2 separate regions of the Homo sapiens genome follow, and region 1 is linked to region 2. Evidence: fine-mapped expression QTL. Tissue or cell type: whole blood. Region 2 holds a variant in brackets; the other region holds the start of a gene. All regions are shown on one strand. Distances are between the middles of the regions.

The links. PIP is the estimated chance that this variant, and not a neighbour inherited with it, causes the effect.
Region 1: it holds the start of MARK4, and the variant in region 2 is fine-mapped to the expression of MARK4 in whole blood (TOPMed, PIP 0.95).

The regions. Positions count from the first base shown.
Region 1 is chr19:45,250,040-45,252,717 of GRCh38, reverse strand. MARK4 (microtubule affinity regulating kinase 4) reads right to left here and starts at 1,447. Exons shown (of 17, transcript NM_001199867.2): 1 at 1,079-1,447. The coding sequence starts at 1,129. RefSeq lists an enhancer at 1-539 and silencers at 1,013-1,162, 1,393-1,772.
Region 2 is chr19:45,299,464-45,302,141 of GRCh38, reverse strand. It overlaps MARK4 (microtubule affinity regulating kinase 4), which reads right to left. Exons shown (of 17, transcript NM_001199867.2): 16 at 2,287-2,331. Among named protein-coding and RNA genes, the nearest start is that of CKM, 22 kb to the left of the region's middle. The variant A/T (reference allele first, on the strand shown) is at 1,093.

The sequences.
Region 1 (2,678 bases), 49 kb after region 2:
GCTTGAAACCAGGGCAAGACGAGAGGCTTCAGGTCCAGGAGTTTTCTGGAAGAAGGATCTGGGGCCAGGCCCTGTAGCTGAGGAAGGCCTCTGAAGCTGAGGAGGGGGCTTCCTTGGAAGGCCAGACTCCCAGCAAGGAAGGGGGAGGCCCTGGGGCAGGAGAAAGGACGGTGGTTTGTGGGGAAGGGGTCTGAGTTTGGCCTAGCAGGGGGTCCAGAGGTTGGGGGTTGGGGAAGGGGCTGCCTGAAGCTGAGAAGTTGATAGAGGGCGGATGAGGCCTGGAGTCAGACTGGTCCAGGGCCTAGAAATACCAGCCTGGGTGAGGTGAGGGCCTAGAAGTTGGAGGCCAAGGCTTCCTGGGAGAGGAAGAGACCAGAAAGGGTCCAGGTGGCATCTGGGGGCCCCGGGGTGCTGGGATCTAGGGACAGGGCTGCTTGGAAGATGGGGACCAGGCCTGGGACGGGAGAGACCTTGAAGAAGCCAGAAAAGGGCCGGGGCCCAGGAGAGGTGGAAACCAGCTTCCTGCCAGGGGCTGCCCACAGGCGCCCTGGGTGCGTCCTGGAGGGGCAGAGGGCTGGGAATAAGAGGAGGGGGGCTCCTGGGGAGCCGGCACCCAGCCCCAGACAGGGAAGGCCGGAGCCAGAGGCAGGACTGGGCCAGGCCCTGCTGAGAGTGCCAGGGCCGGGCCTTGGGGGGTCAGGGGCCCTGCAAATCCGGGAGGGGGCGAGGTGTCGGACGCGGACGGCCTGGAGGGGAAACGGCTTAGCACAGGCAAGAGAAGGGAGGGGCTCCTGGAAGCAGGGGAAGGGGCTTCCTGGAGGGAACAGACCCGAGCGGAAGCGGTCTGCACGGGGACAAGAGAGGGGTCCCGAGAGAGGGGCGCCCCCAGGGGTCGGGCTGGGCTGGAAAAGGTGGGGAGGGTGGAGAGGCCTGGAAGTCCGGGAGGGGTCGAGAGGTGACGAGCCGGGTCGGGCCCAGGAAACGAGGGTAGGGGCTCGCGGGGCGAGGGGTACAACGGGGAGAAGGGTTTGGCGGCTGGACCCAGCCAGGGCTCCCCAAGGGGCCGGGCCCCACTCACCGTGTCCGAGTTCCGATCGTTGCCCGGGGCCAGCACCGTCCGCGAAGACATCTTCTCCGGGTCCCGGGGGGCAGGGGCGGCCGGGTGGGGGGGGCGGGGGTCCCAGGGTCCCCTCTCTTCCCCTCCCCCCCCGCCGGCCTGGGGACGCGAGCTCAAAAGCTGGGCGCCGAGAACGCCCGGGTCCGCGCGGCGGGAGAGGGGGCAGGGCGGGGGAGGGGAAGGGACGCCGAGGGTCCTAGTGGCCCCGTGCAGCGGGGACCCCGGGCGCCATGGGGGCGGCGGGCAGGCGGGCGGGCGGGGGCCGCGGAGGGGGCGCGGAGCCGGCCCAAGCGGCGGCGGAGGGAGGCGGTGGAGGGGCTGGGGAGGGAGGAAGGGACGTCAGGGGGAGGGGCGGGCAGGGCGGGGCGCCGGGACCCCGCCCCCCGCCGCCGGCCCTTAAAGGCGCAGGCCCGGGCTGGTCGGGGCGCCGGGGGCTCCGGGGGCTCCGGGGGCGGAGGCGGGTCTGGGCACGCCGGCGGGGAGCGTGTTCTCGCCCGAGACGAGAGGCGCACTGGAGAGGAGAGAAGGGGAGAGAGAGGCCGGGGCAGAGCGCCAGAGACGCAGAGAGAGAGATCGAGAGACGTAGAGATAGAGAGACACGAAGAGAGAGAGACGAGTTACAAAAGGGTGGAGAGGCGCAAGGAGATGAAGGAAGAGCCAGATGACAGAGAGAGAGAGACGCAGGGAGACAGAGACAGAGAGACCCAGAGACGCAGAGGGACAAAGACTGAGAGAGACCCCACACACACACAGGGAGAGACAAAGAGATACAGAGACGCAGAGATCTGTGAAGAGATAGAGATAAAGGGACTGAGCCAGAGAAGACCCCAGAGGCGCTGCCCACATTGTCCCTCCCCCTGGCCCATTCTCTCCCCAGTTGGCGGGGGGGAGCGGGGGAAGCTCTCCCCTCGGAGGCCTAAGGGTGGGGTGGGTGAAGGGGATGGTGTGCGGGGCTTGGCCACTGCTGAGGGCTCAGTGACCTCCCTAGTCAGGCTGCCTCCACTCAGCCACATAGATCCAGACCCGCAGGTTGGGGCTGCAGCATCCACTCCTTTGCACCCCAGCTGGGGTGTGGGGACCCTCTCTGTCCACCTGTATGACCCGGGGCAAGCACTTGCCCTTTCTGGGCTTCACTTTCCCAGTTTGTAAAGTGAAAGGAAGAATCCGTGTGTTGCTCACTGGCAGGTGCGAAGGAACCCTGTGCAGGTATTCGCCTGCAGGGCACAGCCACTCCCCATGCGGGCAGGCTGAGACCAGAGAGGACAAGAGCCTCTCGGAGGCCACACAGCGCTGTGGGGACCATCCATGCTCTGTGGACCAGGGTGGGATGAAAGAAAGACAGGCATTACATAGTCTTGGCCTGGGAGTCACATGGTTTTGGGAAGGGGTCTGTGCCCTGCCTTCTTCTATCTGAGGCTTATTTTCCTGAGCCTCAGTTTCCCCTTCTAAAACAGCAGTGTGCTGGATCTGGCTGGAGCGAGCTGATTGTTATGTCTCAGGAATTTTGGAACTGGTTGTTAAACACAGCCATTATTAAAAATTAAATTATGCAAACATACAA
Region 2 (2,678 bases):
TGAGCAGAAGTGAGATGTGCCATCCACATCAGTTCCTTCAAAGAACCTGCATGTGCCAGGCTCTCCTGTCCCACATCTCCCAGGAGCTGGACTTAGCAGTGGCACAGGCCAGCCTCAACTGTGAAGATGACAAGGGCTCCAGGGAATCGGGATGCAATAACCTGGGGACCTGAATGACCGCATAGATCACAGTGGCCTTACCAGCCTGGCTTGGCCACATGGTTTGAATGTTTGAATGAGAAATTTCTTTTTCCTTTTCTTTTTTTTTTTTTTTTTGAGACGGAGTTTTGCTCTTGTTACCCAGGCTGGAGTGCAATGGAACGATCTCGGCTCACCACAACCTCCGCCTCCTGGGTTGAAGCGATTCTCCTGCCATAGCCTCCTGAGTAGTTGGGATTACAGGCACGCGCCACCACGCCTGGCCCCAGCTAATTTTTGTATTTTTAGTAGAGACACGGTTTCACCGTGTCAGCCAGGATGGTCTCGATCTCCTGACCTTGTGATCTGCCCGCCTCGACCTCCCAAAGTGCTGGGATTACAGGTGTGAGCCACTGCGCCCGGCTTTTTTTTTTTTTTTTTTTTTTGAGACAGAGTTTCGCTCTTGTCGCCCAGGCTGGAAGGCAATGACACAATCTTGGCCCACTGCAACCTCTGCTTCCCGGGTTCAAGCAATTCTCCTGCCTCAGCTTCCCAAGTAGCTGGGAGAACAGGCACCACGGCCAGCTAATTTTTGTATTTTTAGTAGAGACGGAGTCTCACCATGTTGGGCAGGCAGGTCTTAAACTCCCGGCCTCAGGTGATCCACCTGCCTTGGCCTCCCAAAGTGCTGGGATTACAGGCGAGAGCCACAGTGCCCGGCCACTTCTTAGTTTTTTTGAGACAGGGTCTTGCAATGCAGTAGTGCAATCACAGCTCACTGCAGCCTCGACCTCCTGGGCTCAAGTGATCCTCCTGCCTTGGCCTCCTGAGTTGTTGGAATTACAGGCATAAGCCACTGTGCTCGGCCTCTGGGGGCTTTTTGATTGTCACATGTCTTAGGATGGGAGCACTGCTGGCACTGACTAGGTTGGGGATGGGGTAGGTCAGGAATGA[A/T]AAACATTCTCCAATGTGCAAGAGGGCCCTGCACAACAAAGAAACGTCCCGCCTGAAGTACGAGAGTGCTGCTCTACATGAGCATCCCAGGACTAGCCTCCCTTGTTCCGGTGGGGCCGCCCCTCAGCTTGGGTGAGCACGACTCAGCTCTGCCAATGATAGCATTCTACTTCCCGGCCACTGTGCTTGGGTCAAGGGTGACCACATGACCAGGTCTGACCAACCAGAGTACTTCTCCTCTCTGGCTGCAGGCATTGGTTTAGGAATGAGCATGTGACCAAGTCCCAACCAATGAGAGTCAGCCCTGGCAGTTTGTTGCAGCTGCTGGGAAGGCTCCGGTTTCCACTTGGGTCTCTAAACCGGGAACTCAGACAAAACCAGGGCTTGGCAAACTCCAGTGCTGTCTGCTTTTGTAAATAAAGTTTCATTGGAACACTGCCATACCCATTTGTTTTGTGTTGAATATGACTGCTTTTGCACTACAATGGCACAACTGAACAGGCGTGACACAGGGTGCCTGGCCCTCAAAGCCTAAAATCTTCATGATCTGGGTCCGTACAGATGTTTGCCTCCTGCTGGCCCTGAGCTGCCAGCAAACATTGTGCCATGACTGGATGAGAGGCAAAAGGAGGTGGGGGCATTGACCAGAAGAGGAGTTGAGTTGTGGATGGGATGAGGCTTTTTTTTTTTTTTTTTTTTTTTTTTCAGACGGAGTTTCACTCTTGCTACCCAGGCTGGAGTGCGATGGCACAATCCAGCTCACCGCAACCTCTGCCTCCCGGGTTCAAGCGATTCTCCTGCCTCAGCCTCCCGAGTAGTTGGGATTACAGGCATGCGCCACTACGCCCGGCTAATTTTTGTATTTTTAGTAACGACGGGGTTTCTCCATCTTAGGCTGGTCTCAAACTCCCGACCTCAGGTGATCTGCCTCCCTTGGACTCCCAAAGTGCTGGGATTACAGGCTTGGGCCATGGCACCCAGCCGGAGGCTGAAGTTTAAGATGATCAAGGGAAGGTGCTTGGGGTTGGGTGGGAATGAGAGGAGCTGGCAGAGAAGGCTGGGGCCACAGGGCATTTCAGGAAGTTGGCCTTGCAGGATGAGACTGGGGCCCCATCTAATGCCCTGGGGTAAGTGTCGGGAGGTGCTGAGGCAGGAGAGGGGAAGTGGCAGTCAGGGGTAGGCCCAAGCACTCACCTTGTGACCTCAGGTCCCCCGATTCTCTCAGGTTCGTCTGCGACCCTAGGGGAGGGGAGGGGGACAGAGTGTCTAATCTGGACATAGGGAACCCACCTCCCGCAACCCACTGCCTCTGGGACTCCAAGCAGCCCCTGCCTCAACCCCAGTCCCTCCGGGCTGGTGAGGGCCTGGAGTCAGGATTTGATCTCCTTGTCCATCCCCATAACGGGGCTCATTCTGAAATGGTTAGTGCAGGTCACAGGAAAGATACTGAAGAATGTGGAAGATGAAAGGGAGGGGAGTGGGCAGAGACACACCCTTACATAGATAAGTGGCCACAGAGAGAAAGAGAGAGACACACGCACGTGTGCACACACACACACTCCCTCGCTCACATATACATTCATGCT